4 linked regions of the Homo sapiens genome follow. The protein of the gene in region 3 purifies or fractionates together with the protein of the main gene of each other region. This does not show direct contact. Each region holds a gene or a part of one and is shown on either strand. Other genes may lie near its edges.

The links.
Region 1: the proteins of SYNCRIP (region 3) and SNRNP70 purify together in Homo sapiens (affinity purification with mass spectrometry; 4 studies listed by BioGRID and IntAct, with this or other methods). This does not show direct contact.
Region 2: the proteins of SYNCRIP (region 3) and FAM120A purify together in Homo sapiens (co-immunoprecipitation; 4 studies listed by BioGRID and IntAct, with this or other methods). This does not show direct contact.
Region 4: the proteins of SYNCRIP (region 3) and DDX21 purify together in Homo sapiens (affinity purification with mass spectrometry; 3 studies listed by BioGRID and IntAct, with this or other methods). This does not show direct contact.

What each region holds. Positions count from the first base shown.
Region 1 is NC_000019.10:49,095,451-49,102,484, reverse strand, and holds part of SNRNP70 (U1 small nuclear ribonucleoprotein 70 kDa), read right to left. Parts: intron 4,059-7,034; coding exon 3,994-4,058; intron 3,844-3,993; coding exon 3,781-3,843; intron 3,652-3,780; exon of another isoform or gene 3,639-3,651; coding exon of another isoform or gene 3,522-3,638; intron 1,096-3,521; coding exon 1,014-1,095; intron 327-1,013; exon of another isoform or gene 312-326; intron 1-311. UniProt on the Homo sapiens protein: Component of the spliceosomal U1 snRNP, which is essential for recognition of the pre-mRNA 5' splice-site and the subsequent assembly of the spliceosome. SNRNP70 binds to the loop I region of U1-snRNA.
Region 2 is NC_000009.12:93,510,674-93,517,707, forward strand, and holds part of FAM120A (constitutive coactivator of PPAR-gamma-like protein 1), read left to right. Parts: intron 1-4,993; coding exon 4,994-5,094; intron 5,095-5,309; coding exon 5,310-5,596; intron 5,597-7,034. UniProt on the Homo sapiens protein: Component of the oxidative stress-induced survival signaling. May regulate the activation of SRC family protein kinases. May act as a scaffolding protein enabling SRC family protein kinases to phosphorylate and activate PI3-kinase.
Region 3 is NC_000006.12:85,632,870-85,639,903, forward strand, and holds part of SYNCRIP (heterogeneous nuclear ribonucleoprotein Q), read right to left. Parts: intron 4,488-7,034; coding exon 4,374-4,487; intron 4,275-4,373; coding exon 4,098-4,274; intron 1-4,097. UniProt on the Homo sapiens protein: Heterogenous nuclear ribonucleoprotein (hnRNP) implicated in mRNA processing mechanisms. Component of the CRD-mediated complex that promotes MYC mRNA stability.
Region 4 is NC_000010.11:68,973,170-68,980,169, forward strand, and holds part of DDX21 (nucleolar RNA helicase 2), read left to right. Parts: intron 1-375; coding exon 376-495; intron 496-1,500; coding exon 1,501-1,574; intron 1,575-4,359; coding exon 4,360-4,519; intron 4,520-5,672; coding exon 5,673-5,807; intron 5,808-7,000.

The sequences.
Region 1 (7,034 bases), on a different chromosome or scaffold from region 3:
TGCCACCTCGCCGCTGACATCACGAAGCCGGGTCATCAGAGGCTGGGTGGAACCCAAGCGGAGAGGCCGCCGCCTTTCCCACCAGGTTCATCCTTCCCCTCCTGGGATCAGCAAGATTCTCAGAGAGCATACGGATCGGGGCAGGAGGGACAAAGGGCACCCAAACAAGGAAAGGGCCATGGGTGCGGGGAGGCTACGGGGGCGACTGGGGTGGGAGGAGGGGCGCCTCGCTGCTCCTGAGCTGCCTGGCTAAGCTGGGCTGGTGTGCGGTGCTGAGTGATCTTACCCATGATACAAACCCTTATACCAACCATACACTGAGGTGTTGTAAGGGGAGCGTAAGCATCAGCTGCAAGCCAGCTGCGTGGTGGCTGCAGTGACAATAAGAACAGTCAATTAATACGGCGGCCCCTGGACACGCCGCAGCCCTGCCCACCCTCCCCCACCCATCCCTGCCCATGTGGACGCCGCGGCAGCCTCAAAGGGGGCTTTGGAACTGTAGGGGCAGGCGCTCAACATGCCTATCACCCCACTGCCCGCTGAGGAACAGGGTGGGGGGCCAGGGTTGGGGAAGCGGAGGGTCGGGTGGCCCAGCCCCAGTTCTACTGGGGGGGGAAGAGAGGGCAGGTTCAAAGGCCAGTCCTCATTGCAACCTGGCCACCCCCAACTTCAGTGGGGGGAATGGGGGAGGTTCCCCCAAAATCCGACCCCTCCCCCCACCTCCAGCTGGCCCCAGCCCCCCACCCAGTTCCCTCTTTGCCCCTGAGGTTCAACGTGTGACACTTACCTCCCCAGGTTCACACACACACACACGTTGTGGGGGATTTGGTTTTTGTTTTTTAAAAAACACGTATATAAAAAAAAAAAAGATACATCAGAAACAGAGGGAGGAGGAGAAGAGACATCGCTAATGTCAGGTGTGGCAGGGTGGGGGAGGGGACAGACTGGGAGGGGCTGGGGCAGCAGAGAAGTGAGAGCAGGTCAGAGGGCAGGGCTCGGCGGGAGGTACTCACAGTGCATGTCTCGCTCGTGTTCGTACTCGATGAAGGCATAGCCACGGGGCTTTCCTGACCGCTTACTGTAGACCATGTGTATCTGTGGGGCACATGGGGACAGGGGTGAGTCCTGCCACAGGGCGGCTCCGCCCCACCAACCCCACAACAGCCTGCACACCAGGCCCTGGGCCGGATGAGGCCTCAGACCCTCTCTGTCCTTCAAGAGCCCTGAGTGACTTATGTTCTAATGGCAGGAGCAGAGGACACAGAGGCGGCTTCCTGGAGAAAATGACACTTAAGCTAAGACCTAAAGAAAGAAGAGAGATGAAGGAAGACAGTGAGGTGTCAGCCTGTCAGGTGGAATAGCAGTAACTCCAGAGGTCCAAGGGCCCGGGGGCAGGAGGGCAGGAGGCTGGGGATGCGCTTCGGCAGGGCTGGCTCATGTACTGATGACAGAGAGTCCCAGGAGATGAAGCCACAAAGGTGGGCAGGCCCGGGGTCATCAAGCGCCCCAATGCCAGGCCGAGAAGTGTGGTCGCTGAGGAGCTGGGAAGGGTGTTGAGCAAGGAAGGGCCAATGTGGGTGGTCTACGTGGAGTCAGGAGGACACAAATGGAATTAGGGAAACAGGAGGGAGTTGTGAATGCCAATGGGACGGGAATTCTTTTTTTTTTTTTTTTTTTTGGAGACAGAGTCTTGCTCTGTTGCCCAGGCTAGAGTGCAATGGCTCAATCTCAGCTCACTGCAACCTGCACCTCCCGGGTTCAAGCGATTCTCCTGCCTCAGCCTCCCAAGTAGCTGGGATTACAGGCGTGCGCCACCACACCTGGGTAATTTTTTGTATCTTTAGTAGAGATGGGGTTTCACCATGTTGGCCAGGCTGGTCTTGAAATCCTGACCTCATGATCTGCCCTTCTCGGCCTCCCAAAGTGCTGGGATTACGGGCGTGAGCCACTGTGCCTGGCCAAGGACAGGGAAGTTCTAAGGGAAAAAGAAAGGACACGTGCACAGCCAGGGAGGCTTGAGAGAACGTGGCACGATGAGGGATGCGTCCCATCCCGAGGATGGCAGCAAGAGAAGGGAGGAGATGGGGTGGGGTGGAGGTCCATGAGGCCACACAGCTTGGGGAAGAGCCCTGGAAGGCCAGATGGTGGCAGCTGGACCTGTCCTAACATGCTAGGGACCCATGGGATGCTGTCAGCAGAGATGGGGTCAGCTCTGGATGTCAGAAAGACCCCTTGGGGACCATGTCAGGGAGAACAACGGGCAAGGCAGGGCTGTTGAGACAGAGGTGGCCAGAATGAACCAGGGAAGATTTCTGGGAGGTAACAGCATTTGAGCTGGTCCCTAAAGGATGGCTAGTTCGCCATTCACATCACTACCAGTTGGCGACCAACCTGTATCATGGATGAACCTGGGACCCCACAGCCTCCAAAACACAACCAAGATTCCTGACTTGAATGGATCAGAGGGACAAGGGTGGGGCCAAGGTTGTCACTGGGCTGTGCAAGGCAGAACAACGTGTGTGTGTGTGTGTACACATATATACACATGCACATACACACACACACACAGGCACGAGACACCACACTCGGCTAATCTTTTGTATTTTTGTAGAGACGGGGTTTCGCCATGTTGGCCAGGCTGGTCTTGCCTCCTGACCTCAGGTGATCTGCCTGCCTCGCCCTCCCAACATGTGGGATTACAGGCGTGAGCTACCACGCCCAGCCTACAATACTTTTTTTTTTTTTTAAGATGGAGTCCCACTCTGTTGCCCAGGCTGGAGTACAGTGGTGTGATCTCGGCTCACTGCAACCTCCGCCTCCTGGGTTCAAGCAATTCTCCTGCCTCAGCCTCCTCAGTAGCTGGGATTACGGGCGCCCGCTATCATGCCCAGCTAATTTTTGTATTTTTTTTTTTTTTGTACAGACCAGGTTTCACCATGTTGGTCAGACTGGTCTCGAACTCCTGACCTCAGGTTATCCGCCCACCTCGGCCTCCCAAAGTGCTGGGATTACAGGCGTGAGCCACCGTGCCTGGCCCAACAATACTTTTTTTTTCCTTTGTGTGGAGAACGGGGTCTTGCTATATTGCCCAGGCAGGTCTCGAACTCCTGGGTTTAAGCTATCCTCCCGCCTCTGCCTCCTTAAGAGCTGAGATTACAGGTGTGAGCCATTGCACCCGGCCTGACATGTATAAATATTTTTAAAAGACGTATCAGAAACAGAGCAGGGAGAAGAGACATGGCTAACATCAGTTTGTGTGTAGGATGGCCTCAAGCCCTCACTACTGCCCAGTGAAGGCATGCGTCTCCCATGTTAGATAAAGGAAATCAGACACAGAGCACTTCAGTGACTTAAAAGAAGATTGGTAAAACAAAGCCTTCCTCTAAAACGGGACTCAGCATAGGTATTCTGCCAAGACCCAGAGAGTAGATATTTCCAGCTTGGACGGCCGTATACTGTTGCAACAATCCAACCCTGCCTTACAACAGTAGCAGCCAAAGACAATGTGTAAACAAACAGACCTGCCTGGCTGAGCAGCAGGAAAACTTTAAGTCTGTAGTTTGCCAACCCCTGCTCTCAACCAACCACCAGCAGTCATTACTTCTCATTTTACTTCTGCTGCCCAAGGTCTGCTGCATGGAGATACAGTCAGGATGCATAAATCCAGGCCCTGAAATGGTGTGAGCCATGCTCAGGGCTGGGACCTCTCTCCCTCCCTCTCAGGATACAGCCCCTCCTCCATGCACCCCCAATTCAAACACCCTGACCCACTCCACTTACTCTTTTGATAGGTCCGTACACCTCAAACTCTCTCCGGAGCTTGGATTCTGTTGTGTCATAATTCTACAAGGAGATGGATATGACGTTAAATGGGAGAACAGAGCTGTCCCACAGCCCCTGGAACATTCCCCTGTACCTAGCCTATTTGACCTTTGTGCCAGACCCAGGCTCTCAGCAGCGTGGGGTTCCAGGAGCTAGGAGCTGGGGACTTACCACTCTCGCCACGAAGAGAGTCTTGAAGGCATCCCCCTGAGCATTGGGATCATTGTGAGGGTCCCCTGTGCAGGAAGAAAGGAATTTTATAAGTTGAAGGTGTCCATGGTCTCAGGTAGCAAAACAAATACGATGGGCAGAGGCCAAGAAGAAAACGGTGGCATTGGGAGAGGCCCCTAACTGGAGGAACATGGGTGGTGACCTGGCAACCTCAGGGACGCCCCTCTCTGAACCTGTTTCTCTGAGGCACAGTGGGCTTTATCAGAGTGGCTGAGAGATAATCCAGGCTGCTGAGGAGAGGAGGTAAGGCTGACTTCAAGCTGACAGGATGTGGGCAGGCCCAACTGCCATTTCAGACCTACATAAACCCTAAGGGCCCTATCGCTCCCAGATGCAAGGTGATCCAAACAGTAATAGCCCAACTGGGCCTCCCTGGAGATGCAGCTGATGCCCCCAGGTTCTGAGCTCCCTCCTGTAGGCAGGGCCACACTGCCACCTACTGGACACAGACTGCAACTACAGCCCACAGGAAAACCTGAGACCAAGCTGCCCCAAGGCTAAGAATGAGAGCCAGGAAAGCAAACACTAAGTAAGCTCTGCTTTCCTGTCTGTGCCCTGTGTCTCTAAAAAGGAACCCAGGAACTGACTAGCGTCAGATCAGATTCTCACTCCAGCCTCACTACTGTGAGGCAAACTGTTCTACCTGGCTACTAAGGAATAACAATCTCCAAAGAAAAGAGCCAGGAATCTCCTAAGAAACCAATTTCATAGGTGATCCTGCTGGGTCAGGCCTGGGAATAAGTCCTTTTCACCAAATATGGTGGCTCCAGCACATAATGACCCTGACTCCTGCCGGGGCCTTAAGGACACTCTGCCGGTTCTTCCATGGTATAGTGTTTCCCTCGGAAGCCCTGTCACATTCTGGGAGAGCATGAGAAAAGGAATAACATTAACCCATTTATGCCAGAGGTTGCAATTTTTTGAATTGCAGACACGTGTGAAAAATCAGACCCTGGTGATGACCCGAGCAGTAGGATATAAATAACTCCCACATGCTTAGCGTTCCAATAATGGAACATTAGACATATAATTTACTGAACACGTACTATGGCCCAGACACAGTGCTGGACACTGATATTTATTTATTACTATTTTGCAAATGGAAGTAAAACAGAACAAACTCGAGACACAGAAAAAGGGAGGTGTTAAAGTGGCGAAGGGCCAAGGCAGACTTCACCTCTCACCCCGGGCACTTGAACTACCAGGCTCCTTCCCCGAACCCTCGGGTGCTACCTTTTCAGGAAGACAGTGTGGGTGTTGCCAGAAGCTAGAGAAATAAAGTCTCAGATTTTTTTTTTTTTTAAACAGAGTCTTGCTCTGTTGCCCAGGCTTAAAGTGCAATGGCGCAATCTCGTCTCACTGCAACCTCTGCCTCCGAGGTTCAAGCAATTCTCCTGCCTCAGCTTCTCAAGCAGCTGGGATTACAGGCGTGCACCACCACATCCAGCTAATTTTTGTATTGTTAGTAGAGATGGGGTTTCGCCATGTTGGCCAGGCTGGTCTCGAACTCCTGACCTCAGGTGATCCGCCCTCCTCGGCCTCCCAAAGTGCTGGGATTACAGGCATGAACCACCGCGTCCCGCCAGATTTGTTTCTTATGAGAGAATTTAACTACAAGTATAAACTAAGGTCAAGATGACTTTAAGGAATGTACTTTTTTTGAGATGGAGTGTCACTCTTGTTGCCCAAGGTCAGTGCAATGGATGGCGAGATCTCGGCTTACTGCAACCTCCGCCTCCCGGGTTCAAGCGATTCTCCTGCCTCAGCCTCCCAAGTAGCTGGGATTACAAACACACACCACCACACCCAGCTAATCTTTTGTATTTTTAGTAGAGACGGGGTTTCACTATGTTGGCCAGGCTGGTTTCGAACTCCTGACCTCAGGTGATCTGCCTGCCTCGGCCTCCCAAAGTGCTGGCATTACAGGCGTGAGCCACCGCACCTGGCCTAAGAATATTTTAGAAAACAGAAGCCTAAGCCACAATTTAAGGGAATCGCTATCTGGGACAAATGGAAACGTCTGAAAACAACTCCATCTCAGCGTTCTCTCCACCCACTCCTCAAGTTCCTTGCCAGGCTGGGCACAGTGGCTCACACCTGTAATCCCAGCAATTTGGGAGGCTAAGGCGGACGGATCACCTGAGGTCAGGTGTTTGAGACCAGCCTGGCAAACATGGCGAAACCCCGTCTCTACTAAAAATACAAAATTACCAGGGCATGGTGGTGTGCGCCTATAGTCCCAGCTACTCGGGAGGCTGACGCAGGAGAATTGCTTGAATCTGGGAGGTGGAGATTGCAGTGAGCCGAGATCATACCACTGAACTCCAGCCTCGGCAATAAAGCGAAAAAAAAAACAAAAAACAAAAAACGTTCCTTGCCATACCTTATCCCTGAGCGTTGTAATTTTCTATGGCCAGGTCTCTCAATCTGCACTGGCTTTTTTTTTTTTTTTTTTTGCACCAGCTAACTCTCATTCATTCAATAGGTAATTCTTTTTATTCGCCGATGTTTGTGCTCTTGTAAGTAAGTAATTCTTAAGCATCTACTATGTGCCTGGAAATGCTATAGTTGTTGGGGATTTCGCAGTAAACAAGACAAAAAAAGGTGCTGGGCGCAGTGGCTCACAGCTGTAATGCCAGCACTTTGGGAGGCCAAGGCAGGCGGATCACTTGTGACCAAGAGTTCAAGAAGACCAGCCTGATCAACACAGCGAAACCTCATCCCTACTAAAAATACACAAAAAATTAGCTGGGTGTGGTCCAGCTACTCAGGAGACTAAGACAAGAGAATCGCTTGAACCAGGGAGGCGATGAAGGTTGCAGTAAACCGAGATCGTGCCACTACAGTCTATCCTGTGCAACAGAGTGAGACTGTCTCCAAAAAAAAAAAAAAAAAGGTGTCTACCCTCATGGGGTTCATATGCTAATGAAAGAGGTAAATAAGGAGATCCTATGATCACATCAGATGACGACAGAGAATAG
Region 2 (7,034 bases), on a different chromosome or scaffold from region 3:
TGATGTGTTGCCTGGCCTGGTCTGAACTGCCTCAGCCCCCAGTGTCGGGATTGTAGTCATGAGCCACCGTAACCAGCCTTGATGAGATGTAATGTTCCTATTCTGCCTTCTTGAACTTTGCTCAGTCAGTACAAGTATTCTGTTCAAACTGATTAATTAAACCCAGGAACTGAATACATTTAGATAAAACTTGCTACTTGAGACTGGGGCACTGGGTAGATTCGAATGATGCCGTATCTCGTGATGTCTACCCTCTCACTATCCACATTCAGGGATGGAAAGGATTTGGGGAGTGAGGAATGTTTATAGAAGTTCAGCCCAGCTCCCTGCTGTAGAATGTTCTTGTATGAGCAGTCCAGCAGTCAGTAAAGCAACCCTTTTCATTGTTGAACTGCTCTCATTCTTAGAAAGTTCTTGTTTCTGTTGACTTGAAATTTGCTTCCGTGGTTTAATTTTTCCCGCTGTTCCGAATTCTTTCACGTGCCACGCAGGATGTGCCTGTTCACTGAGTTCATAATCTTACTTCTCATGGGCCTTGTACTTAGCCTTCTTCAAGCTGATCATGCCTCAGGTTTTGCCTCCTTCTGTCACCAGGCCTCCTCTTCTGGGCGCCGGCCTCTGGCTCTTCCCTTGGGGTCTGGCCAACACCGCAGGCTTTGGGCCAGCATCAGCTGCTCCCAGGCTCTTAGCTCTTGGGAGTTGCTCCTCCATCCTTTGCCTCCCTGGGCACTGACATTGCACCTGGTCTCAGTCCAGGCTTGGCCAGCCTGACCGGCTCTGTGGGGCCTCCTCTCCCTATAGGATGGCCAGACGCCGCGCCCTCCCACTGTGCTCCAAGGCCCCACCCTGCCTCTCTGGACACTGGATCTGTAGTGTAACGGGAACAGGTCACATGACAGTTTCCTTTCTATAACTTTTTATCTTCTGTAGACTATTGAGATTTAGTAAACATGTCTGTTTGCACATGCTTAAAATGGTTGGAATGTTTTGCCTTGTCTGTGTTTGCAAGCGATGAAAATTAAAGGTGGTAGGGATTATATTGATTTGTTTAATCTTGGACTCGACATCTTCAAAGCTATATTTTTTGGGTGATACTTGAAAATCATACAATGTCTGCCTGTTTATTTATTTATTTATGAGATGGAGTCTCATTCTGTCACCCAGGCCAGAGTGCAGTGGCACGATCTCTGCTGATTACAGCCTCTGCCTCCAGGGTTCAAGCGATTTTCAGCCTCTGCCTCCCGAGTAGCTGGGGTTATAGGCGCCTGCCACCATGCCTGGCTAATTTTTTTATTTTTAGTAGAGACGGGCTTTCGCCATGTTGGTCAGGCTGATCTTGAACTCCTGACCTCAAGTGATTCGCCTGCCTTGGCCTCCCAAAGTGGTGGGATTACAGGCATGAGCCACTGAACCAGGCCAGTTTTTTGTTTTGTTTTGTTTTTTGTTTTTTAAGACTTAACTTTGTTACTCTTTGTTTTGTTTAACATTTCAGGATCATATGCCAAGTAATAGAGGAACATTTGTTAGGTTGGGCTAGGAATGGGGACTGGGGTAAGGCCGACTGTAGTTCTAAGAAGAGGTTCCAGTTTAACACCATTTCTTTAAAGAATTTTACCGTATTTTAATTCAGAGCAAAAGCCACACAGCTGCATATAGGCGTAAGTGAGTCCTTTGAGGAAGTAGGTGACTGAGCTGTAACAAGTCAAGATCATACAGCCGAGGGATTGCAGTGCATGTCTCTTTTCATTCTGAAAGAACTTCTCACTATTTAAAAACTATTTTTAAAGTTACGAAATATTTTGAAATATAGTAAACTTTTTTGGCCTTTTTTTCTTCTTTTGCTTCTTGTCTTCAGTCTGCATATTTTTTTTTTTACCGAAAGCCCACCTCTCTAGTAAGTGTGAAAGGAAGAGAGTGAGAAACTGGTGGTGTGACCTCTACTCTGGAGCCCCGTGTCCCTTCTGAGAAAGATGCCTCTTGTTGTAGAGAGGACACACAGTGGTTCTGCTCAGCTGCACTTGGGCATGGAGAACAAGAACCGATATAGACGAAGGCCTGAATCCGCAGAGGGAGACCCTGGGTTAGGAGGCACTTCTGCAGCCTTCAGAAAATGCAGACAAATTAATTCACTTATTGGACTGCTTTAATAGAATAGTGGCTTGCTCTGTGGATTCACAGAGGATTATTTGAGGTCAATGATTGGAATGTGATTTTAGAAAATATTCTTTCCTTGGAATTCTTTGGTTTTATGCTGTAATGTAGTTTGTTTGTTTGCTTTAAAGGAAAGTTTGTGCTTTCAAGGAAGGTTTTAGGATGAAATGGCCAAAAATCAAAAAACAAAAATGATCATCTTCACTTGAATGCGGGTGCTACATGAGTCTAGCCTTAGATTTGTATTATTCCAAAGTTAGGTAAGTGAGGTCAGCCACAAGATATTATACACTAGACATTTTACATTGATTTAAATTATATGGTTGGAGCTTGAATAGATTTTATAATATTCTTTGGACCAAACCTGCCTATCAGAATCACCTGTGAACAGTTTTTTAAAATAATAGCGACTTTGATCGCACACGTGGAGGTGCAGATCTAGCCAACATACTGTTTTAGGAACAGCTCCTTGTATTGTCTGTGCCATGCGTGTGTGTGCGCCATGCATGCACGTGTGGGGTGTGTTTGTGTGCACTTCTGTGTGTATCTACGCCTGTGTGTGAGTGACCACTTGATCATGCACACACATCCCTTAGAGGCACGGACTTGTGGACTTATCGGTCAGTTAGGAATGTGTTGTGTGCACGTGTGTCTATGTGCGTGTTGCATGCAAGTGTGAGGTGTCTGTGACTACACACATGCCAGTCTCATTATTCCCAGCTTCTCATACTGCAGTTGTTTTTGTTTGGTACAAAGGTGGAAGCTCTGCCAAGGTTTTTTCTTGATGCGAGCCAGGATCGAAGGGCTATGGTGTTTAAAGCTTGCGAGCTGAAGGCCCTTGGAAGGCAGGAACCTCAGATAAATTGTAGTCTGTAAGATTCCTGGTCGTTCTCTGGGGGGAGTCAACAATGATCTGTGCTTCACTCCCAGCGTCTGTTGACCATGCTTGGCTCTCAGGAGGCCGGACCAAGGACAGCGTTTGCACTCCTGGTCTCACCACGCCCAGTGTTGGCTTAGGGAACCTCTTGTGAATGCAGCCATGGACATTTGCTTTTCAGAGAACGAGAGTGAAGGTTTGGGGAATGTTTCTGTCCTTACCTATATTGGCAGTAGGCAGTGTGAGAGGTGGTGGTTCTTGGGTTGTGTTCCCCTTGCCTGGTGTTTTCCTCTGATTTCATACTGCTATAAAGAACTGCCTGAGACTGGATAATTTATGAAGGAAAGAGGTTTAATTGACTCACAGTTCAGCATGGCTGGGGAGGCCTCAGGAAACTTAGCATCATGGCAGAAGTTGAAGGGGAAGCAAGGCACCTTCTTAACAAGGCAGCGGTAAGAAGTGTCGAGTGAAGGGGGAAGAGCCCCTTATACAACCATCAGATCTTGTGAGAACTCATTCACTATCATTAGAAGAACATGGGAGAAACTGCCCCTATGATCCAATTACCTCCACCTAGTCTCTCTGCCTAGACACGTGGGGATTATGGGGATTATAATTCAAGATGAGATTTGGGTGGGGATGTGCAGCCTAACCATATCAACTGGTGTTCAGATGAAGAGGTTGTAGAAGCATATCTACTGCTTAAAGAGGGAAATTGGAGTCAGCAAGCTCTGGGCTTGGTTTTCTTCCACATTTAAAACAAACCCAAGGAAGAGATGGTGCAGCCGTGCAAGCCCCTGGTGGATCTGTTGTGTCTCACACAGGTTTTCTATTTTCTCTGTGTCTTCAGCAGTGTGCATCTTACTTAAACCGCCTCAGGGCTCCTTTCATCCCCAGGCCCAGTCCTCAGCTTGACACATCATAGGCCCTCAGCACCTAAGTGTTCTGAGAGGGAGTGCAGCTCCTAGAGGTCCATGTCCCATGTCCTCCTGCTTCCTGCATATCATTTGGGCCCCAGTCGGTCCTTGTTACTGCGGGTCTTGTGCTGTCTCTGGAACAGCCCTTTATGGGCACCATCTACTCACTCATTCACTTCTGTTGGCTGACGTGGCCCCTGAGCTCTCTTCCTGTGCTTAGTTAGGCCGCGCGAGGCCAGAGGTTGAGTGGGGAGGCTTCCAGCCCCTGCCTTCTGTCCCAGCTTCAGGCTGGCCTGGTTCCATGTCCTGCTGTCCTGCTTCAGCCATTCCTCTATGTGGCTTTCAGTCCTCTCACAGATTTCTTCATTTTTGCAAGGTAGCGTGGGAATGATGACTAGCACATGGCAGCACACATCAGGCAGGTTTATGAAATTATGTTTTAAGAGAACACAGAATCACAAATTACTCATCCTGTATATGTGTTAAAATGTGTAACCTAATTGCTGAACAATGAAAAGCAATTCCTTTTATATTTAAAAACTCACTAGTTAGCTGAGAACCTAATGGTAGTTGCAATGTACTTTAAATAGAAAAGTCCTCTTGCTTGACAAAGGTAAAGGAAACTGTTCGGTCCGACTTTGTTCCTTTCATGCCTGCCAGGGCTTCTGGTTTCACGGAGACCTCAGGCTAGGAGCAGCCCTGAGCAGGGAGACTGAGTTACAGAGAATCCCCACCAAGTTGCAGGCAGAGGGACAGCCGAGGCCCTCAGGAAGTACACGAGAGCAGAACCACTATGGCAAGTTCACTGAGAAATCTGGAAAGTTAGAATCCCAGCCCGAGTCCATCAAATGGAGCATCATAAAATTAAGTTTTCCTTACTGTGAAATGGCAATTTGTAATGATTTCTGAGAAGTGGGACCCATGGTGGTGTCGATGTCTGAGCCAGGTGAGGGTGAGATCCCTGGCGCCATGGGCTGGCCCCCAGGATGCCCTGGAAAACGCATTCTGTTCACAGCTGTGTGATTCTTTTCTTTCTGTGTTGGTGAAGCAGCCAGACCCGGTCCGTTTGGAATGCCTGGGATGGTGCCGCCGCATGTTCCTCCTCAGATGCTCAACATTCCGCAGACCTCTCTGCAAGCAAAGCCCGTGGTAAGGCCTTCCCTGCGTTGGGTCGGGTGGCGGGTCTCAGACAGGGTGCGTGCATTGAATTTCAACGAATGCTAAAATAAGTTCCTAACCTCTTGAATTGATACGTGAAATAGATGCCAGTGTTTGTTGAAATAAAAATGAGCCAGGAAACGTCAGCCTGGGCCTGAGTCGGGTCCTGCTGGCCACGTGTGCGTGACCTGTGCCCTTCGCTTCAGGCCCCACAGGTGCCCAGCCCAGGGGGCGCCCCGGGCCAGGGTCCATACCCGTACAGCCTCTCTGAGCCAGCACCTCTCACTTTGGACACGAGCGGGAAGAATCTGACGGAGCAGAACAGCTACAGCAACATTCCTCACGAAGGGAAGCACACGCCGCTGTATGAGCGGTCCTCGCCCATCAACCCGGCCCAGAGCGGCAGCCCCAACCACGTGGATTCCGCCTACTTCCCTGGCTCTTCTACATCGTCATCTTCCGACAACGACGAGGGCAGCGGAGGGGCGACAAAGTGAGTGGTGCGTGGGTCGCTGGGTGCTTCCTGGCGGGTAGTGACCTGGGGAAGCTGCCTTCTGGCCTGCCAGCCCAGCTGGTGTTTTGCTCAGAGATGTAGTTTATTGCAGGTGGGTGATGGTCAGTCTGTACTCAGATGGGGGCTCCTTGGACAGAGAGGAGAGAGGAAGAGTAGGTATGTTCTTGAAGTTTCCATGATTTAAAATCTGCACTATCCCAGCCCCATGGCCTGGAGCCACAGGAAACTTTCTGGGGAGGAATTTGACAAGAACTGGTTTGTGTGATGACCAAAACATGGGGGCATTTGTCCGGTGTGGTGCCACTCACACCCGTCACAGCAACCCCCTGCCGACCCCCGAAACATTAATCTTCTGGCTCCTGGATCAAGGGAGCTCTGAATTTCCTCTCCTTCTCCTAAACTCAGCAGGTTACAGGACACTTTGGAAATAACACTGTTTGCCCAAGCAAAACCCTAGAAAGCTGCCTAGACCCAGGCTGGAATTGTTTCCTTAGAGGAGTATTTTAAACACTGTGTGTCCCTGAATAAATGGGTTCACAAATACATAGTTGGTTAAAATTTGATCGAGGAAATCTTTAATTTGCACTCCTCCCTTTCTTTAAATTGTCTTATGTTTAAAACAAAAAAAACAGGGAAAGAATATTTCTTTTCTTTAAGTCAGTGTCTCCTTTTCCTTGGTGTGAACTCTACTTTACAGCGCAGATAACCAGGGCTGGTTGATGTTACATCTGTTTCTGATGTAGGAAATGTAAGAGACATAGGTGTCAGCTTCCATGCCAGTTCTTACCTTGTGTGTCACCTGAAGCAGGTGATCTTTTCCTCTCTGTCCTCTGTCCATCTGTGAAATGGGAATAAATGTCTGTTGACCCAGGGCAGAGCTTACTGAAGGACTCTCTGCCATCCAGGGATGCATACCCTGTTTATAGCAGAGAAGTATAACATTAATAAATGTTGATTTGTTGTATGTGCAGAGAAGTATAAAATTAATAAATGTTTATTTGCTGTATATGCAATGCCAAGACTCTAAAATGAAGTAAAGAGTTGCAATTGAATATTCAAATTTTTAAATTAACCTCTAGCAAGATAATATATTGAGTACCCATTGAATCAGAATCTCTGGTTGGGGCCCCCAAATTTGCATTTTAAATAAGCACCTCAGTCAGTCTTTAGCACACTGAAGTTTGAGAACAACTGCTTGATGGTCTTGGAAGCCCTTATGTGCCAGATTTCTAAGGCATGTGCATTTTGTTGTAAAACGTGACTCATGTCAGCAAGGTCCAAGTGTCTGTACAATACAGTTTTTGTCTTAGTAAGAAATGTTCTTTCTAAACTGTGAAACATAGGTAAGAAGTAAGACAAAAAGCAAAAGAAGTAAGCTTTATGACCCCAACAAGAGTTCCATGCTAGTGATGGAGAT
Region 3 (7,034 bases):
AAGGTTAGTGAGCATTGATCATGACACTGCACTCCAGCAAGGGCAACAGAGTGACAACCTGTCTCCGAAAACAGTAATAATAATTAAAACCGTTTACTTAAGGCCGGGCGCGGTGGCTCACACCTGTAATCCCAGCACTTTGGGAAGCCAAGGCGGGTGAATCACAAGGTCAAGAGATCGAGACCATCCTGGCTAACACGGTGAAACCCTGTCTCTACTAAAAAAATACAAAAAAAATTAGCTGGGTGTGGTGGTGGGTGCCTGTAGTACCAGCTACTCAGGAGGCTGAGGCAGGAGAATGGCGTGAACCCGGGAGGCAGAGCTTGCAGTGAGCCGAGATTGCACCACTGCACTCCAGCCTGGGCAACAGAGTGAGACTCCATCTCAAAAACAAATAAATAAATAAATAAATAAATAAATAAAATAAACAATTTACTTAAAAGTAGGCTGGGTGTGGTGGCTCACACCTGTACTCCCAGCACTTTGGGAAGCCGAGGCCGAGACTGGGGTCAGGAGTTTGAGACCAGCCTGGCCAACAGGGTGAAACCCCATCTCTACTAAAAATACAAAAATCAGTAGGGCATGGTGGTGTGCACCTGTAATCCCAGCTACTCAGGGGGCTGAAACAGAAGAATCACTTGAACCCAGAAGGCAGAGGTTGCAGTGAGTTGAGATCACACCACTGCACCCCAGCCTGGGCAACAGAGGGAGACTCCGTTTCAAAAAAACTTACTAAAAAGTCAAAAAAAGCAAATGATGGTATGACCAATATATCCTACTGGCTGTATACCAATACCTACCATTGGAAATTTTTTTTTTCCCCCTTTTTGGTTTTTTGAGACAGGGTCTCTGTTGCCCAGGCTGGAGTGCAGTGGCATGATCACAGGTCATTGCAGCCTTGACCTCCTGGGACCACAGGTGCACGCTGCCTGGCTAATCTGTTACTTTTTGGTACAGATGGGGTCTATGTTTCCCAGGCTGGTTTCAATCAATCCTTGCACCTCAGCCTACCAAAGTGCTGGGACTACAGGTGTGAGCAACCACACCCTGCCAAAAGTATCTTTTAAAAGACAACAAAATGCAAAGTCTCCTATTAATTAGATAGTACAAAATAATTATGCCCCCAGAAAAGGATTCAAATCACAACAGAGAAACCCAGAAAGAAATGTAGAAAGTTTTAGGACAAGGGTTAATTCCTACGCCAATCAAAAAGAATGCTTATCTATAGAAGTTTCTCCATTATATTTAAAAACTATATTAATAAGACTATATTCTAAGCAACCTACAGCAATGCAATTTTATAATTTAACGTATTTATTAAACAAGGCAATTGTACAAATGGAAACATTTCCTAGTGTCTACTGGCACTCGAAATCACTGTTACTAATGGATTATAAACCATCTTCCTCTAATGATGTATCTTTACTGTAAAGTTTCTGGAAAACATCTATAAATAAGTTATAGTGGTCACCTACCATAATTGGTACATTTTGACGGCAAGAATTAGGTAACCTACGATGTCAGTTTAATGATTCTTTTTCATAATGTTAAAAAATGGATGACACCACTAGCTAAATTCTGCAGTGGTCCCTCAGCACATACGGGGGACTGATTCCAGGAACCCATACCAAAATCCATGAATGCTCAACTCTCTTAAATAGCATAGTGTTTGCACATAACCTACGAACATTCTCTCATACACTGGTGTGTTGTTTTTTTTTTTTATTGGGTTTTTTGGGAGTATCTTCAATCCTCAGCTAGCTGAAACTGTGAATGCAGGACCCACAGTAGAGAGAGCCCACTGTATTAGCTTTCTGTAGTTATGATACCTCATTGCTTACTGGATCATTCTGCATTTTCACTTACTGCTACTTTATTGCTACTTGGCAAAAATATTCTACTCTTTTATAGGAGATTAAAGGATTTTGGGACAGGCAAGGTGGCTCATGCCAGTAATCCTTGCACTTTGGGAAGCCGAGGTAGGAGGACTGCTTGAGACCATGAGTTCAAGACCAACCTGCCAGGCACAGTGGCTCATGCCTGTCATCCCAGCACTTTGGGAGGCCAAGGCGGGCAGATTACTTGAGGTCTGGAGTTCAAGACCGGCCTGGCCAACATAACCCCATCTCTACCAAATATACAAAAATTAGTCAGGTGTGGTGGTACGCGCCTATTATCCCAGCTACTCGGGTGGCTGAGGCAGGAGAATTGCCTGAGCCCAGGAGGCAGAGATTACAGTGAGCCAAGATCATGCCCACACACTCCAGCGTGGGTGACAGAGACTTTGTCTCAAAAAACAAATCATAAAAACAAACTAAAGGATTTCTAAGGTACCTCTTTCTAGAGCTCTAAAATGCCCCTCCCCTCAAATTGAACTGCTGAAACTAAAATTTTGACAACTCAAAGGTTACCAGTAAATCTGAATTCCCTCTAAAACACAAAGCACTCTTTTATGAAGAGAAAAATCAGACATGATTTGAAAATATCTAAATTCTCAAATTCTCTTTGTAAAGGCTTATATTCTTTCAAGTAACATAATTTTGTACTGTTTAACTTCCATCATACTCAATTATGCAAACCAGTGGGGAATATTCACACAACATAGAAAAGGAAGACTTGGCCGGGTGCAGTGGCACACGTCTGCAATCCCAGCACTTTGCGGGGCTGAGGCAGGCATATCTTCTGAGGTCAAGAGTTCATGACCAGCCTGGCCAACATGGTGAAACCCTGTCTCTACTAAAAATACAAAATTTAGCCAGGTGTGGTGATAAATGCCTGTAATCCCAGCTACCGGAGAGGCTGAGGCAGGAGAATCGCTTGAACCTGGGAGGCGGAGGTTGCAGTGAGCCAAGATCGCACCATGGCACTCCTGCTGTCTAGGTGACAGAGTGAGATTCTATCTCCCAAAAAAAAAAAAAAAAAAAAAAAGAAAAGGAAGACTTATGAGTTTTATTTTTCTCTTTAAGGCTTGCTTAAAGTGATAAACCTCATGGTAAAGGAAGGGGTAAAACTCAGGAGGGAGGGAAAAAAAAATGAGTCTGAAGATTTTAAGTTTGTCTGGAATTACCCACAGGATACGTAAGCCAGATAAAGCAAATTTAACAAACATGGCATAGTGAGCTATCTTGTACAAAAGTTCTCCCCAGTCGTGTTGCTTGATACATTCTATGGGTTTAAATTAGCCCCCAACTCTTCAACTATAAAATGCAGAAACCACTTCTGTCACAGAACTTAATAAAACTAGTTTAAAGGACTTACATAAACTATAATTTAAAATATTAAAATTTCTTTCTAGCCAGGCGTGGTGGCTCACGTCTAAAATCCCAGGACTTTGGGAGGCCGAAGCGAGTGGATCACCGGAGGTCAGGAGTTCGAGACCAGCCTGGCCAACATGGCGAAACCCCATCTCTACTAAAAATATAAAAATTAGCCTGAGCGTGGTGGCAGGCGCCTATAATCCTAGCTACTCGGGAGGCTGAGGCAGGAGAATCACTTGAACCTGAGGGGTGGAGGTTGCAGTGAGCCGAAATCATGCCACTTCAGCCTGGGCAAGAGAGAGAAACTTGGTCTCAAAAAAAAAAGAAAAGAAAAAAGAAAAATTTCCTTTTTAAAAAAGTTGGAAAGATTACCAGGTCCTTACCTAACATCTGGTATTTTTAAATCAAACATTGCCACTCACCATAAAATCTTTTGTTTCATCAACTAGAAATGTATCACAATGTCTTTTGTGAATTATTTAAGAAAAAGAGATGGCTCAGGTATGGCCAGGAAGTATGAGAGCTCTTACCACAGTTACTTTTCTTAATCTTTTCACATTCCTATAAATTTAAACAAACACACAAAAACGTCACTAAGCCAGATGTTTATAAGAACCAATTGCTAGGAATTCTACCATGCCGCCTTTTAGATGCTGAATCCTATCAACTATACATGCAAAGAATAACACTACAATGCTTGCACAGTGATGTGGGAAAAAAAAAACCTGCCTAAATCAGTACTTCAAAAAATGTTTGGTAAACTCTTAGGCACACTAAGAAAAAAACTTGATATTAAAGACAGTGAACGTGAAAACTGAAGGGGAAAAAAGGACAACTTACCAGTTTAACAGCCTCCTGAGCTGCTTCTTTTGTACAAAAAGTGACAAACGCATAACCTCTATTGAGACCAGTGAGTGGATCCATCATTAGACGAAGATCCCATATAGGTCCAGCTTTCTCAAATAATGGAACAAGTTCATCCTCAAATAGATCTCTTGGGATCTTTCCCACAAATATCTGTAAATTAAATATTAAGTAAAAACCATGGAGAATTGCTTTAGGAAACCAGATACCTGTGCTTTTACTACAAAAGGTACAAGTTTTTAGTTGCTTTACCTCAGTGCCAACAGAAGGCTGCTGACCTGAATAAACGGAATCTGGAGGTGGTCCTCCATACTTCCTCTGTCCAGTGGTCACATCAAGTGTGTAGCCTGTTCTTTCCAAGAGTGCCTTGAAAAGTTCAAACGTCATTAATACATTTAATTCACTAGACCACACCCATATATTTAGCAGTTAACATCCATCTTGCTCAAATCTTTCCAATTATCTTGGCATGTTCCCTTATAAAAACAGGTTTGTGATGTCTGTTTTAAAATTTCCCCTTAAATGTGTACTTGTTATACTCCTAAATTATTATCAGAAGTCCAGGGTCCTGTTCAAATTACTTTCTAGTCTCCACTTAATTACTGAATAGTGTGCTTAATGGACAACAAAAAGTTAAGACCAATCCATCAGCAACTTTCAAGACAGGATGTATTACTATGTTAATACCATCTTAAAAAATGATTGTACCTAATTTGGTTGAGCATCTTTCAAATCTGGATCTCTCACCCAATAAATTCCCTATAAACCCCACTCCTAGGTACATACTGCCATTCTGGGCATTGTGCCAACCTCAGAAGAAATTACACTTCCCATACCAAGTCTAGAAACTTGGGAGCTACAGGGAAAAAAAATCTCCTATTATTATTTGACATTTACGTGCCATATTTCATGGGATAGCATGGGTCCTTCAGAAAAAAGTAACAGCCAAAACGACTTTTAAAAACTTTATGAAACTGCAACGTTACATAACCTCTACATTTTAACTCCCAAAAAGTAACTGTTAAAATTTACACAACTCATATTTACTCAGAGCATTAGGTGTTTATTCCTTATTCTAGGCAAAGTATAGAAAGAAGTATAGGCTGGGTGCAGTGGCTCACACCTGTAATCCCAGCACTTTGGGAGGCCAAGGCGGGTGGATCAGGACATCAGGAGCTCAAGACCAGCCTGGCCAAGATGGTGAAACCCTGTCTCTACTAAAAATACAAAAAATTAGCCAGGCGTGGTGGCACGCGCCTGTAATGCCAGCTACTCAGGAGGCTGAGGCAGAGAACTGCTTAAACGCTTAAACCTGGAGGGGCGGAGGTTGCAGTGAGCGGAGATCGCGCCACTGCACTCCAGCCTGGATGACAGAGCAAGACCCCATCTCAAAAAAAAAAAAAAAAAAAAAAAAAAAAAGGTACACTCCTCCATTATCTGAAGGAAAAAGTCAAGAATTATTCCCCTTCTCCACTGTCTCAACCACAAAGCACAAAAGTGGTTTTCTAAACAAAACCAATTTTATTAGCTAGGACATTCTGAAATAAAAACAGACTAATCCTAGCTATCTGACAAAATTTATCAAAATGCATAATCTAGGGTCACCTCAGTCTCTGAAAATTACTGGACAGATTTTTAACATTTTCTACTCAAAGGACACTAACTGTTTATGAAAAATACTGTAATTAATAAAAACATTCATAAACTTGCTCACATCTATAACATAAACTAAATGAGTAATAGCTCATCTTTCCATTTTCTCACATGTAATCCCTATGCTATAAACGGATTTTTTAACCTTAATAGTTAAGACCCAAATAACACTTTTTGTCAATCCATAAAAACAAAAAGGAAAAACTTATTCCCTCTGTCAAACTTCCTCTAAAAATGTCTCTATGCCTTTTTACCACAACTTAGCTCTCATTGAAACTGTAAGCAGCCAGGCATGGTGGCTCACACCTGTAATCTCAGGACTTTGGGAGGCCAAGGTGGGTGGGTCACGAGGTCAAGAGATTGAGACCATCCCGGTCAACATGGTGAAACCTCACCTCTGCTAAAAATACAAAAATCAGCTGGGCCTGGTGGCACCCACCGGTAGTCCCAGCTACTCGGGAGGCTGAGGCAGGAGAATTGCTCGAACCCGCGAGGTGGAGGTTGCAGTGAGCCAAGATCACGCCACTGCACTCCAGCCTGGGTGACAGAGTAAGACTCTGTCTCCCAAAAACAAACAAACAAACAAACAAAAAATTAAGCCACCCCCTTGCAAAAAAAACTGAAAGCTAAAAGTCACAAACTAAAAGTTTAAAAACTTTAGTTCTAGCTCACCAATGCAAACTTGATTACAACTGAATTACAATGGAGACAACTATACTCCACTTTTATGGAAAAACTAGATTTACAGATCAAACTCAATTCACTCACAGCTAGATCTGTGAAAGCCTCCAATTCATGGTTGTCTTAAACAGCTAACTCCATATACCAACCTTTTCCATATTCTAGGCTTTCCCTGTTTCCACACCACTACAACAATGCTCAAGGCCTATACCCTTAACTGATTTTCTTAAACCATACGCTTGGCTCAAGAGCACTGGCACACTACAAAGCACACCAGGTTAAAAAGTAATACAATCACCACATTGTCTATAAATTAGAAAACTCACCAATATAAATATCAAAACCAAGCTGAATTTGAAGCCATTCACCATGATTTTAAACCAAAAAAAAAGCCTCCTCCTCCTAGCCTCAGTTTCTCATCTACATACCCACACTAAACAATCTTATTGTCAAAGCTGCTTTGAGAAATAGTCTAATAATCCATACTGATGGAAGTGGAGGGCAGCAGGGTTAACATTCTAAATTCATTGGGGTTTGAGACTCCTAAAAAAAAAAGCCAGTTGCCAAATGTACATTCTC
Region 4 (7,000 bases), on a different chromosome or scaffold from region 3:
GAGTGACAGAGTGAGACTCTGTCTCAAAAGAAAAAAAAAAGACTAGATATATTGAGTTAAAATACATTAAGCTTCTTAAAGAAATCTTTTCAGTCTGTCTACTGGAAGACTGAAAATTGGAATTACATATATGCCTCTAATGGACAAGCACTATTTAGACAATGCTCTTTGTAAATTTGCCTGCAGGACAGGGACCATTGTTCTAGAAGCTTTAAAAATTGCCAGAGGTCTTTAAATTGAAGTGCTAAGGGACCTTCTCCCTCATGTCCCCAGGTTTATAACCACAATTGCTAGTGTTCACTGACCTGCATAGGCTACTCAGGTGTTTGTCTCTCTTTTTTGGTTTAGTGTTACTCATGTATTTTACTTCAATAGGATGTAGAGTCCTACATTCATCGATCCGGGCGGACAGGCAGAGCTGGAAGGACGGGGGTGTGCATCTGCTTTTATCAGCACAAGGAAGAATATCAGTTAGTACAAGTGGAGCAAAAAGCGGTAAAACTATTCTTACCTTTCATTAAGCAAATGTTGAGTTCTAAAGTCAGTCTTTGGTTTCTTCAATTTTTATCCACTTTAAAATATTTTTATTTCTAGTGTGTGGCAATGACTGAAAGCTTATTGTTAGGTACATATGTTGTCCTGTGATAAAAGGCCCATTCTGAAGTAACTTTGCATTTGAAAACAGTGATTTTGTTTTCATATGTTTGAAAGGAAGTTTTCAGACAATGATAAATATGAACCAGAGATAATTAAGATTGAGGGGCTGTAGGAATTGCTTGAAAATCAAATGAATGAGGGTATGTCAAAAGGATAAAGGGGAGAAGAGACTAATTTTTCCTCCAGGAGAATTGGAATAGTGTATGTAGATTCTTGCCCCTTCAGGAGCTTCACTCGTCTCCTTCCTCTTGAGTGGACTGCACTTAGGGACTTGCTTTCAAAGAATAGAGTAAGGTGGGGAGTGAGGACTTTACCGAGGAGAGATGAACAAACACTACCTGGGCCAGTTGATCGTGGGTCACATCATTAGTGATAGGCACATAGCCATGTGCCCCTGATAAGAGGTGGTAAGGCGAGCATTCACTTCGGGTATTCCTCCCCCAAATATGTAACCCTGAGCATGAGGAAAACACAAGACAACCTCAAACTGAGGGACATTCTACAAAACTGTTGACCAGCACTCCTTAAAACTGTCAAAGTCATGAAAAACAAGGAAAGAAGGAAAGACAGACATGGAATAAAGTCTGGGGTTTGATTAATAGTTTAGCCATGTTGGTTTCTTAGTTGAAACAAATATACATTAACAGTGTAAGATGTTAATAATAGCAGAAACCTGGAGCTCTCTGTACTGTCTTTGTAGCTTTTCTGTAAGTCTAAAATTAAAAGTTCATTTTTTAATGTAATACATACATTTGGCCTATATTAAAAAATTAGGGGACTGCTTATCTTATTGGAAACAATTGATGGCCACTGTACATTAAACTGTGGTTCATTTTCCTGTAGGGAATTAAGTTCAAACGAATAGGTGTTCCTTCTGCAACAGAAATAATAAAAGCTTCCAGCAAAGATGCCATCAGGTATGTTCCCTACCACTGCTATGGTCTGTTTTAGTGTTGGTTCAAATACTGCATGTCTTTGTACAGTAATAAGATTTGACTTAAAAAAATTTTTTTTTTAAAATTTTTGAGACAGGGTCTCACTATGTTGCCCAGGCTGGTCTCAACTCCTGGTCTCAAGCAGTCCTCCCAGCTCAGCCTCCCAAAGTGCTAAGATTACAGGTGTGAGCCAGCATGCACAGCCTATTCTTTTTAACTGATAACCTGTTTATCAAAAAAAAACCAGACCGTGCTGAAGTAGAATTTCACAAAGTGGATACCCTCGTTTCTACTCATTCCTGTCCTATCCTGTTTACCAGAGGAAACCACTATTAAAATAGTTTGCTTTGTCTAGGATATTTTAAGGGATAATATCTTAGGTATAGTATAGGTGCTTCTCACCCACTGGCTGATTAGACCACAGATTACATTCCAAATCTACATTAATCCAGTTCCTTCCCTGGTAGGATGAAAGTTGATTGCTTCGTTAATAGTAAATGTCTAGATGGTGAGGATTAGGTTAATTAACAGTTTGTCAAATGGAGGTGCTGCTGGCATTGGAGGCAAGAGAATTATTTTTTATGGGATTGTCCTGCAAATGGAAGGATATTTAGCTGCTTAGGATCCGTGGCTGATTCCCCTGTGCCACATACTCAGGGTAAGTAGGGTTGGCATTATAAAAACCAGAAACCATTTTCCAGATGCCTCCTGATGGTGACCTATGTTCTCTGTTAAAGAACCACTGAGTTTGGGCATCATTTTTATAGTAGTTTTCACAATTACTGTAAATGCTTATTTAAAAAACAGACACAGGGAGTCCATGATCAAAGGAAATCCTGGATGTCAATCAGCATATTAATAGTTCAGGAAAGTTTTGTTAATGAAAGAGTTTTGGGCCAGGCATGGTGGCTCATGCCTGTAATCCCAGCACTTTGGGAGGCTGGGGTAGGCGGATTGCCTGGGCAACACGGTGAAACTCCATCTCTATAAAAAATACAAAAATTAGGCCGGGTGCGGTGGCTCACACCTGTAATCCCAGCACTTTGGGAGGCCAAGGCGGGTGGATTACCTGAGGTCAGGAGTTCAAGACCAGCTGGCTAACATGGAAAAAACCCATTTCTACTAAAAATACAAAAAAATAGCCAGGCGTGGTTGCGCACGCCTATAATCCCAGGTACTTGGGAGGCTGAGGCAGGAGAATCACTTGAACCCGAGAGGTGGAGGTTGCAGTGGGCCGAGATCACACCATTGCACCCCAGCTAGGACAACAAGAGCAAAACTCTGTCTCAAAAAAAAAAAAAAAATACAAAAATACAAAAATTAGATGTGGTAGCAAGTGCCTGTAGTCCCAGCTACTCTGGAGGCTGAGATGGGAGGATTGCATGAGCCCAGGAGGTTGAGGCTGCAGTGAGCTGTGGTTGTGCTAATGTACTCCACCCTGGGTGGCAGAGTGAGACTATCTCAAAAAAAAGAAAGAGGGAAGGAAGGAAGAAAGAAGACAGGGAAGGGAGGAAAGGAAGGATGAGTGTATTTTTTTTTTTTTTGAGACAGAGTCTTGCTCTGTTGCCCAGGCTGGAGTGGAGTGGTGCAATCTCATCTCACTGCAAGCTCTGCCTCCCTGGTTCACGCCATTCTCCTGCCTCAGCCTTCCGAGTAGCTGGGACTACAGGCACCTGCCACCACGCCCAGCTAATTTTTTGTATTTTTAGTAGAGACGGGGTTTCACCGTGTTAGCCAGGATGGTCTCAATCTCCTGACCTCATGATCCGCCCGCCTTGGCCTCCCAAAGTGCTGGGATTATAGGCGTGAGCCACCACACCCAGCCTGGAAGAGTGTATTTTAACTGCATTTTTCAAATTTATTTTAGCATGGCATGTTTTTTTAAGTGTCCTACAGACAGGGTTCCCTTGGGTGCCAGTTAAGGAGAGTTGGGGTTAGATGGCCAAGAAGGGGAATGGGACAAAGATGCTGGTGGTATACAACAAACAGCCTCCAGCGTGCCAGCCCTGACACGGCTGCATGTCACTTTCTCCCCTTTTTACTGGATGATCTTTTTCAACTTTGAATGGGACATTTATTATTGCCAAGATAATAGTGACCCCCTTAAGAATGTACAAATAGTCCCATAAAGGTCCTTATCATTTTTTAAACTGACTTTGGAGGTCTTTTTCTTATTTCTTTTATTTTCTTTTTTTTTTAAAGAGACGGAGTTTCTTAAAATGATTGTGTGTGGCACAGTCATAGCTCACTGCAATCCTCCCACCTCAGCCTCCCAAGTAGCTGGGACTACAGGCATGTGCCACCACACCCAGCTTTTTTTTTTAAACTTCAGAATGGAAATAGGTTTTTTCTGATCCTAAAAGTAACACATGCTTCTTGTATAAAAACTCTTGACATAATTCATCATCACATCTAATGGTAGTATGACATTTTATTATGTCTGTTTTGTGGCTTATATAAGCAGCCCAAATGATGCACATTTTAAAATTGTTTGTACTTTTTGTGTATTATAAGTAACACCGTGGTGAACTTCTTGTTTTATTATTTCCTTAGGATAAAATGGTGGGGTAGGTGATAAATTAGAATTACATACAGTCAAAGGAATGGATTTATTACTATAGAAATATGATTATTATATACTGCATCAAAAATAAATATGTTACACATGTGAAAGATTTGGAAAGTTACTCATTTATCTTGAGATGTCTTAGAAATGAAATGTGTCCACTTCTAGTATCCTTTCTCCTAACACACTCTCAAACAACAGGCTTTTGGATTCCGTGCCTCCCACTGCCATTAGTCACTTCAAACAATCAGCTGAGAAGCTGATAGAGGAGAAGGGAGCTGTGGAAGCTCTGGCAGCAGCACTGGCCCATATTTCAGGTGCCACGTCCGTAGACCAGCGCTCCTTGATCAACTCAAATGTGGTAAGGTTCTGCAGCACATTCCTGACACTTCATAATTTGGGGTATGAGCAGGATATGAAAGGGTTTCATTTAAGCTTCCCAGTTGTTTTCATTTTCTCATGAAGTTAGTAAAGTATTAATTGTATTTTACAATTTCTGGCCAGACACAGTGGCTCATGCCTGTAATCCCAGCCCTTTGGGAGGCACAGGCAGGAGGATGGCTTGAGCCTACAAGTTTGAGATCAGCCTGGGCAACCTAGTGATACTCTGTCTCTACAAAAAAATAAAAAAAAAAAAAATTAGCTGGGCGTGGTGACATGCTGTGGTCCCAGCTACCTGGGAGGCTGGGATGGGAGGAGGGAGGATTACCTGAGCTCAGGAGGTTGAGGCTGCAGAGATCCATGATGGTGCCACTGCACTCCAGCCTGGGTGACAGAGTGAGACTCTGTCTCAGAAAAGAAAAGAACCAATAATTCCCATGTTTAAACACACACACACATACATGCAAATCCATAGAGGCAGAAAATATGAGTGGTCCTGACTGGCTGTGTGGAGGGAGGAATGGCAGTGGCTAGTAATGGATGCAGGATTCTTTTGGGTGGATTATGCCATGTTCTGAAATTTTAGATAGTGCTGAATGGTTGCAGATCTTACAAATATACTAAAACAAACAAAAAAAACACTGGATTATATACTTTCAAATGGTGAATTTTGTGGTATGTGATTTTTAATTGTTTTAATCCTAAAGTAGCCCAAACATATATATGCGCATAAATGCATATAATACATTTAGCCAGCATACCTAGAAACTTTAGAAGGTGTATGCTTTTCTTTTCCTGTAAATTCAAATTTTTATTGAGATAATTGTAGATTTACATGTAGCTGTAAGAAATAATACAGAGAGATCCTTTGTATACTCTGCTCAGCTTCCCTAAATGGCAATATTTTGGAAAACTATAATACCACAACCAAGATATTGACATTGGTACAATCAACCAGTCTTACTCAGAGTTCCCCAAGTAAAACGAGGGACTGTTCGTACTAATTGTTTGTGTGAGATGTATGTTTTTAGGAATAACTTTTCAAGAAATATTTTAGAATCACAAAAGCAGGTATTTATCAATTAGGTTTATTTTCAGCACTTTAATTTTATTCTCCTTTCTTGTGTTGTAAGGGTTTTGTGACCATGATCTTGCAGTGCTCAATTGAAATGCCAAATATTAGTTATGCTTGGAAAGAACTTAAAGAGCAGCTGGGCGAGGAGATTGATTCCAAAGTGAAGGGAATGGTTTTTCTCAAAGGAAAGCTGGTAAGGCTGGGGTCTCTGTTGTAACCTTGATGGGGCTTTATGTGGGCAGGAAAACAGTGTGGTGTGGGTTCTTCCTGTTCTGTGGGGATGCTGCATCTCTTCACTCTCTCATCTTCCCTGGGTAATCTCATCCGTGATCCTCAGATGCCACTCTGCCACTGACAACTACTGTACCTCTATCTCCAGCCTGAACCGTTCTCACAATGCCAGACTTGATCCAGCTGCTTCCCTGACATCTCTACCTAAATAGCTTATTTAAAGTAACTTTTTCAGAATCTTTTTTTTTCTTAGCAATGCTATTCTAGCACTGGACTTATTCAGAATCTTGAATTCAAATTAAAAATGAAAAAATTTGCCTCCCAAACCTGGTGTTCTTTCTTCTGAGGCCTTCTCTTTGTTTATGCCATAGACTATCACAAGGATTCTCAAACATTTTGGTTTCACAATCCCTTTAGCAAATGTTAGGGACCCCCAAAAGCTTTTGTTTACATGGGTTATATCTATTGATACTTACTGTATTAGAAATTAAAACTGGAACTCTAAAACACAATATCATGTTCCATTAGTCATCAGAGCAATGATTTTATCACGTCATATATGTCTAGGAAACTCCACTGTACCCTTGAGGGAATGAGTGTGGAAAGGGCAACATTATTATGAAAATAATTTTGACTTGGCGAAGCCCCTAAAAGATCTCAGGTTTCCAGGTTTCCATTGGCCTAGTGAACTAATCGGATTTATCTTCAACTTATTGCATGTCTAGCCATGTTGTTATCTCCTTAAGCAACTCCACAAAACTTGTGGGATAAAGTCTCAACCCTTTCATAGGAGGATAAGATCCTTCATGTCCTGGCCTCTGCTAACCTTACAGCTTAATTTCTACCTCATTGCTACCAACACCATTTACTCCAGCAGTGCCCAGTACACCATGCTTTATCTCATCCTCAGTGCATGCTGAACCTACTATTTATAGTAATCTTTCGGCTGGGCCCCGTGGCTCATGCCTGTAATCTCAGCACTTTGGGAGGCTGAGGTGGACGGATCACCTGAGGTCGGGAGTTTGAGACCAGCCTGACCAACATGGAGAAAACCTGTCTGTACTAAAAATACAAAATTAGCCGAGGATAATGGCGCATGCCTGTAATCCCAGCTACTCAGGAGGCTGAGGCAGGAGAATCACTTGAACCCGGGTG